Regions from separate parts of the Homo sapiens genome. Here region 2 is reported to be linked to region 1. The links are microRNA targets in miRTarBase. Many come from high-throughput screens and were not tested one by one. Region 1 holds a microRNA gene; the other region holds the end of a gene's coding sequence.
The links. The annotated mature microRNA hsa-miR-424-5p reads CAGCAGCAAUUCAUGUUUUGAA and lies in region 1 at 2,830-2,851, opposite strand. An mRNA with a match to its seed (bases 2 to 7 or 8) in the 3' UTR can be bound and repressed. Matches are read on the target gene's strand: a 7mer-m8 pairs with bases 2 to 8, a 7mer-A1 pairs with bases 2 to 7 and ends in A, and an 8mer does both.

Region 1 (4,151 bases):
GCCTTTGAGAGATGATTGTATTTTCTTGAAACAGGAGTCTTCTGTGTCCAGGTCCCCGCCAACAGTGTTGATGTAGTGTTCCTTTGTTGGGGGGAAAAAAAATCAGTACTGCTAACTGGAGATGCTGGATGCCTTCAAGAAAAACATTCCTGTGATTTAAATTTTTAAAAAATTATGTTCAATTCTGGTTTATCAAACAACCTGGGTATCTTGTCTCACAACTTACCGAAATGTCGAATTTTAGATTTAGAGTTAGACTAAGCTCTTCCTAGTTTAAGGGCCACGTCTGTCTAATAAACTTTATACAATGCCACGTGCACGCAGCTTCCTCACTAACAAATAACATGTGTTGGGGAAAAAATGAGAAAATAGTGGAAAGGTGCCTCCTTGGAGGTGGTAACATCGGGTCAATTAATCAGCTGAGTATAAATTGATTCACTTTATACAAGTCTCCCACACATTATGATGCACATTTAGCAACGCTGAAAAACAATTTAAAAGAATACCTTAGGGAGTTGTTAAAGAGAATTTATAGTCTGGAACGAATTGCAATCTTCTTAATTGACACAGAAATGTTTGGCTAAAATATTGCTTTATTCACATTTTTGTCCTTGGAGGAAAATCTAGGCACACTGCAACTTGGATCGTGTAAATAAAGGTACAAGGAATGTTTTAAGTCAGAAAAGGGCATCACGCAGTCAGGGGGCTGTGTGGACGAGCTCAATTTCGATGCATCTCGGGAGACCCGGGCAAAAGGCCGCTTGGATTCCGGGAGGCAACGCCCCCAAGTCAGGATCCCTTGCTCGCCGCCCCCAACCGGTCAGGATCCCTGGCTCGCGTCCCCAACCGGTTCCGTGTCTCACCTGGGTCCTGCAGGCGTCCACTGGAGGAAGCCGGATGGCGCGGGCTTGGTCTTTCAGGAAGGCTGGCTGGCACCGGGCTTCCTTCTGGCTCCAGGGGGAACCGTACAGGACGGGGAGAAAGGGGGAAGCTGGTGAGAGGCAGAAGGGGCGTCACAAGGTGGCTCTCCCACCCCCAAGTGCAAAGGCAGGCGGATGCGGGGACCTGTTCGCCGTTTGAGCCTGGAGATTGCGGGCCTGAGGGGCCCTGCGCTGGCCGGCCGGGGCGAGGCGGGAGCAGAATGGGGATTTCTAGGCCGCCGGGTCGGGCTGGTGGGCGGCGCCCCGGGAGCCTGAGGGTCCCCGCCGGCCCGGGAGGGACCCGAGCCGCCCCCGCGCACTGCCCCGGCGCAAGGGAGTCTGGGAGAGCCAGCGTCTCGGGCCGCTGAACCCGACTCCCAGCTCTAGACTTCGGAACCCCGGCCCCACCCCAAACTGGGAAACTTCTAGGGGCCCACTCCTGGCCCCGGGAAGCCCAGTTCCAGGCAGCCCATTCAGACCAGAGGAGTTTGGGTGTCTTTTTTTTTTCTTTAAGGTGACAAAAAGTGTGGGAAAGATTCCACACCTCCCTCCCCACGCCCGCCAATGGTCCTTTACCTGTCCATGTTTCAGATTAAATAATTAGCTCAAGAGATTTGCACAGAAAGCGAATTAGCCCTTTTCTAGTCAGACTGTTAAGCTCTCAGGCGGGCAACTCGGAACCCCGTTTCCTCACCGAAGGCTCAGGAGGCCAGCCCAGTGAGGGATGGAGGTGGCTTTAGAGGGCGACAGTTGTGCAGCACTCATGAGCAACAGTGCCCAGGACTTTTGAAGTCACGAAGGGCTCCTGAAATCGACAGCTCAGGTCCCGCCCCTGGGGCGACAAAGGAGTCTTGGGGGCGTGCCGCCGGGTTGGAATTGTGGTAGCAGATTTTTGGGGGAGGAGGGCGCAAAGCAGCTAGAAACGCACATCCTCATTCTGGAACTATCCCAAGGCCCCCATGCTTCTCAGCAGGCCTCGGGCTCAGATTGGGCGGGTTGGAGCCTTCCACCCCACCTTGGGTTCACCCGCCCGCAAGGCCTCGCGCCTCACCCGATCCTTCTAGAGTGCTGGAGCTCCACGGAGCCTCCCTAACCCCCCAGCAGCGGGGAAGGGAGGGCGAGGGAGTGGGGAAGAGGCCCGTTATTTTGATCTTTCCTGAATTCTTAAGTCCCTTCCATACCCAGGACATGAGCGCGTTTACCAGGAACCGCAGAGAGGTGTAAAGACTTCTTGCAGCTGCTCACCCTTCCTCTCCCCTTACTCCTTTTCCAGTCCTCCCCACCCCCCAGCATTTCGTGGGTGGGGACTGAAGATAGGTTTTCTTCGTTGTCCTGTGGGTGGTATTCTGATTGGGAAGGGATTTTTTTCAATTGTTTACATTCTACCTGAGCAGGGAAAGGGGGTGCCAAAATGAAGCATCATTCACGTCCAGTCACATATGCAGAGACGGGGCAAACGTTTGATGCAATCTTGGGTCTCGCTGCTCCCGGGGCCGACACCGCAGGCGATGGCCTAAGACTTACCTGCTGGGTAGGCCCGAACGGCAGTCCCAGACTTACCCTGGCAGCGGAAACAATACCCCAGAGCACCGATCGCTCACTGCAGAACTGTTCCCGCTGCTAGGGCACGGCTGAGCGCGGGCACCGCGTCTCTCCTCGACTCGCACCGCCTATGCGCCCCAGCCTAGCCAGGAATACTGCCCTCCCCGGACTACAGCCCTGCTGCGTGGACAAGGGCGAGGACCCGCCGGAAACAGAGACGCGAGCCCCCGCCCACCTACCTGCTCCTGAGCCGGCCTCGCGGGGAGCGGGCACCTGGTGGCAGGAACACGCGTCCGGCAGACCCCACCTTCTACCTTCCCCACGAGGGGGTATAGCAGCGCCTCACGTTTTGAACCATTTAGAACACTTCAAAACATGAATTGCTGCTGTATCCCCTCGGAGTCAATGAAGGGGGATCGATCTGGGGGTACCTGCGGGTGAATAAAGACTGGATGACTGAAGGAAGCCCCGCCCCACCCCCTGGCAAGGAATAGGGCAAAACTTATGACTAGGCCACTTCACTCCAAGTTAAGGTACTTCTTATAACTTCACCATTTGATTTCCAGGAGCTGCAGGTGGAGCCGAAAGTGTGGCTCTCAATTTTTTCCCCTGAGGATGAATCTTGGAACAACGTAGTGGGTGAAAAGCAGAGCGATGGGGGATACGAATTAGTGTGGAAGAGAATCTAATTACTTCTGAAGGTAGACGAATAAGGTTAAGTAGAGGCAATTGGACATCTGGATCATTCTTGCCAGTTTCAAAGTCTTGGTGAAACTTCTTCCTGCTGCATATTACAAGTCTCATTCATTGTCCCCATTAAAAAAAAACAAAAAACGAAACAAAAAAACAACCTTTATTGGAAATGGACTCAGATGACTGAAAGAAAATAACCAAAACCTCACCGGTAGCTTCAGCTGATTCTTACACTATCGTTGCGACATATACATCTATCTTTAAAAGCATTAGATGTCCTAACTCACTGCTAGTGTTTTTATTCTTAAACACCCCAGCTGAGTTATTTTAAAGAGCTCCAAACAATGACAGAGAACTTTCTGTAGATGAAATACCAGTTTACATATTAAACTGGTTACTCAAACTTATTTATAATTTATACCTATCAATGTCATCTATCAAAACATAAATCAAAAAGTTTAAATACTTGATGTCAAGTCGCTCCTTCCTGTTTCAAGCAGCTCCACAGAAACTTTCATGTCCTGAAATGGCCGGCACTGCGCATACTCCTTAATGATTAACTCATTAGATACCACTTTTTCCTTTTTAAAATGGACACATATTAGCAACAAGTCACATGCATGCCCTCTTTTTGTTTGAATACAATATTCAATTAAGCATTAAAAAAAAAACCCACTCTGAAATCCTCAATCACAAACCTAAAAGTTAAAACAACAAAATCAGCACTAACTGTAATGGTTTTGAAAGTTAAATACATTTCAGCACAAGTAATAGACATTTAAATTATCCAACTGTAAGTATCTTGTTACACTTACAAATTAAGTCGGTTTTTCAAAACCAGTACAATGAATGTTAAGTGTCCTATTTATTAGTTAATAAAATGTGCAGAGTATTTAATAAGATTAAGTATCGAATTTATAACATCCAGACTGAGATCCAGTGGTAACAAATACACTATGTCATGGTAAAAAAAAAAAGTCATTAGTAACAATAACC
Region 2 (4,000 bases), not on the chromosome of region 1:
AGAGCCATTCCTGAGGACTTTGGGGCCTTTCTCTTTCTAGACACCCATTTTCTTAATTAGAAAGGGAAAAGACTGTGGCCTTGGGAGAGTTAAGAATAGTAAGACAAGGAGCTGGGCAATCCAGTAGTCAACTAGCTACATGTAGCTATTTAAATTAGTTACAATGAAATAAAATTAGAAAACTGTAGAGCTGCAGTCGCACCAGCCTCATTCATAGCCATGTGTGACTGGTGGCTGCCGTCTTGGGTGGTGCCTTCATTGTCCCAGAAAGTTCTGTTGGAGCAAGCCCAGCTGGAGGAACCCAGCTTCCCTGGCACGCCTGAGGGTGACATGGTGCCCTCACCGCCTTCTGTCTGTCCTCACTTTCTCCTGCCCTGTCCCTCCGCCCTCAGGTGAGAAGCCCTTTGAGTGTAAGCTCTGCCACCAGCGCTCCCGGGACTACTCGGCCATGATCAAGCACCTGAGAACGCACAACGGCGCCTCGCCCTACCAGTGCACCATCTGCACAGAGTACTGCCCCAGCCTCTCCTCCATGCAGAAGCACATGAAGGGCCACAAGCCCGAGGAGATCCCGCCCGACTGGAGGATAGAGAAGACGTACCTCTACCTGTGCTATGTGTGAAGGGAGGCCCGCGGCGGTGGAGCCGAGCGGGGAGCCAGGAAAGAAGAGTTGGAGTGAGATGAAGGAAGGACTATGACAAATAAAAAAGGAAAAGAAAAAAAAAAACAGAAGGAAAAGGAAACCTGGTAGCTTTTTGGCCTTGGATTCTCTCTGGGCTCCAGATGACCTGGATGCCAAGCCACTGCCCCTCCTCTGGGGGCCTCCACCCTCCTCTCCCGGCTGGAGGTTTGCCTGATTTTCTGGGATGGGGTTGGGTATTTTGTTCACTCAAATGGTGGCACATTTTTCTCCTTCCTTCACCCAGACCTTCTTTTATGTGTCCAGAAATGGAGGCTAGAAAGCAGGTGAGAGGTCCTCTGGTCAGAGCCACACGGTCTGTGCCGGCCTTCCTCCACCAAGACCCCCAGGAGATGAAGGGAGGGAGGAGGTGAGCCAGAAGGGCGCTCCCCTGCTGATGGGTCTGGGCTGGGTCACTAGCTGCTCAAAATGGCAGCTCTAGTTTGCTGGCGGCTGACTGGGGAGGAGAAGGGCTCTGTTTCTCTTCCCACCACTCAGCCCACCTGCTGCTTTCCTCTGCTTTGCCACATCTGGGTGTCCCCCGGTGGTCTCTGAGAGCCTCAGGACCCCTGCCCCTCCTCCAGCTCTTTGTTCCCAGCCTCCCCTTGACTCCTGTCCTCCAAGTCCCAGGGGAGTCCCAGCCCCTCAGGGACCTGGCGGTGTCTCCATCCTTCTCCGGTTCCCTAGTGGGATAGCTGCCTCTGACTTCAGGGTCCCTCCTACCCTCAGCCTTCTGAGAACACAAAACAAATCCAATACCCCACCCTAGTCCAGCACCATCGTGAGCAAGATTCCTGCTGCGCTGCTTCCAAAATGGAAAAGCATCACAACTAAATACCTAATATCCTACCAAACAAACCACAGTCCCTACGTAGCCCTACTTCAGTCCCAGGAGAAGGAATCCATGAATGGGCTGAGGTTCCGAGGGTAGGTTGTGGATGTCTTTCTCTAGAGGGGTCCCACACCTGGAAAAGAGGACACCCAGCCCGTGGGATGAGGGAAGCTGGGCAAGGGAGAAAGTTGTTGAGTCACACTGGGGACCCCAGATGTAGTGAGCTCAGCAAGAAAAGCCAGGTCCAGAGAGAGTCGCACAGAATTCCTGACTCACAGCGCCCCTCGGTCCACAGTGGAGAGGAGGAGGAGGAGGAGCAGAAGGAGGGGGAGGAGCTGCAGGAGGAGGAGGATTTGAAAGCGCTTTGGCCTTGTGTTATGTTTTGCTTCTTTTCTGTGTCCCCTGTTAGCACATTGTACTTGAATTACCTCAGTTTTTTGTGACCTCATGAGCTTTCTTAACCTCTGTATCTCTTTTTCGGTTGGGGCTTGGAGGAATGGGGAGGGTGTTCTTTTCTGTTTCTTGTGTAAATTAATAGTTGTTTTTATAGACTTCAGCTGGTCAAGACCCTCCCCGTGCCCCTGGAGACCAGCCTCCCAGCTGGCAGGAACTGTGCAGGAGGAGTTGATACTCAGGATCTGAATGTGAGGGCCGAGGAGGGCGAAGAGCGTGGGTGGGGAGGGGATGTTGCTTTGGGGTCTCATGGTCCCCAGAGGGCACTAGGGAGTCACTTTTGGCTCCGCTGGTGCATGAAGTCACCTGTGGCCACCATCCGTTCCGCCTAAAACACTCTGGAGAGAATCCCACCTTTCTTACAATTTGCTGGGCCATTGAGGTTTGAGGGCCTGTGTTTGGATCCTTGCAACTGTGTGGTCTCACCTCTGTGCGTGCATTCTCATTGCCAGAATTGGTCTATTTTCACGGCTGGTCTTTGGGGAGGGGGGCGGGATCCAGCCTTTGTTTTGTTGTGTTGGGGTGGGGGTGTTGTTTTTCTAAAAGCTACCTCTTATGTTTGTCCAGTTGTTCTTTTGTTCCTTTCCCGCCTCCCATTCTGCTGCTCTTCCTCCCTCTTTTCCCCAACCTCCCCCGACCCTCCTGAATTTTGGAAAGCACATTTGCAATATTCGTGTTTGCTTTGGGACGGACCCTCCGTTTCATCTCATGCTTTATGTGTAAGAGTTTTTTATTATTATTTTTTCTTTCCTTTCTCTCTCTGAGAAAGTTGTGGCTGCGTTTTGATCTTAGGTTTTACAAAGTGGTTTAGGGAAGCGGTTTTGGGGAGAAGGATCACGAGGAATGTAGGGAAGCCGGAGGGATGGGTGCTGCTGCGACGACCCCCCCGTCCCTCGGCCCCAGCCCTCCTGCCCTCCCCTTCAATCTCATCCACCAAATCTGAAGGCCTTAAAATTGTGTGTTGGGAGGATGTGAATTGGGAGGACGGTGTCACTAGACTGTGGATTAGGGATGGTAAAGTAGGGAGGATGCTATTTTGCAACTATAGTAACGACTTAGTGTTTTGGAAAGGAAAAGAAGTTAAACTTGAAATACGTGACTAGAACAGTTGTCATGTTTATAATGTGAAAAGGGTGAAATCATTTGGGGGAGGGGCCGTCTGTAAGAAATCATTATGCACTATGGCTTCCTCCTCTGGTCTGGGAAGAAGCGGGGACTGGCTGGCCCTCAGGGGATCTGTAAATCCCAGAAAACAGTATTTTTAACAGCAAGATGTCATTCAACATTGGTGGGGAAGGAAGAGAAAAAAATCAAACTATTCCATAGAACTAGCTGGCCCCCTCACTCCCATGCCCTTCCCACTCAGCCTGGGCCCCTCCCCGCTCCATTCATAAAAGCTGAGAGGGTTGAGCTAATCTTCACAAATTGTAATATTTTTGTAGTATCTGTTAGTTCCTTCGTCAGTTCTGCAGAACCTTGCCCTTTCCTTTTGTAATGTGAATAGGAAGACAAAAGACAAAAAAAAATCCACCACCACCAAAATATCCCTTTGTACATGTATGTGCGTGTGCGCGTGTGCTTTGTGTGTGTGGTTGTGTGTTAAATCATGCAGTATTGTCGTAATCTGGTGTTGCAGCAATGGATGGTACTAAATCAGCACCTGGATGCCCCACCCAACCCCGTGGGCCCTGCAGACCCCAGTAGGGAGGTATGGGGAGAGCTCAGGGGAGTGTGGTTTCTGAGGGCTACTGTCTGGGGACACCTCTGAACTTACTGTACCTTCCTCTCCCCATGAAGACACCTGAATAGAGTCTAACATGCCTCTTCTCCAACTTCCTACCTACAACAACAGAACAGTTCTAATGTTGCACGGCCTAGTGGCCAGGGGGCAAGCTAAGAGGCTGTCTGGAGGCTTTATATGTGTCTGGAGTTAAGGGGAGAGGAGGAGGGTAGACAGGGGTCTCTCCCCAGGTGGGATCTGAATATCTGTCCTCCCCTCTTCTTCATGCCACCTGACTCCTTCGGCCCCCTGGCTG

Region 2: the mRNA of ZBTB16 is a reported target of hsa-miR-424-5p. Seed matches in the 3' UTR shown: 7mer-m8 at 1,184-1,190, 7mer-m8 at 2,564-2,570 and 7mer-m8 at 2,832-2,838.

What each region holds. Positions count from the first base shown.
Region 1 is chrX:134,543,851-134,548,001 of GRCh38, forward strand. It overlaps MIR424 (microRNA 424), which reads right to left and starts at 2,861; the gene lies at 2,764-2,861. It overlaps MIR503HG (MIR503 host gene), which reads right to left and starts at 2,780. Exons shown (of 3, transcript NR_024607.1): 1 at 2,702-2,780; 2 at 864-947; 3 at 1-149. It overlaps MIR503 (microRNA 503), which reads right to left and starts at 2,548; the gene lies at 2,478-2,548.
Region 2 is chr11:114,249,934-114,253,933 of GRCh38, forward strand. ZBTB16 (zinc finger and BTB domain containing 16) reads left to right here. Exons shown (of 7, transcript NM_006006.6): 7 at 393-4,000. The coding sequence ends at 622. Among named protein-coding and RNA genes, the nearest start is that of NNMT, 44 kb to the right of the region's middle.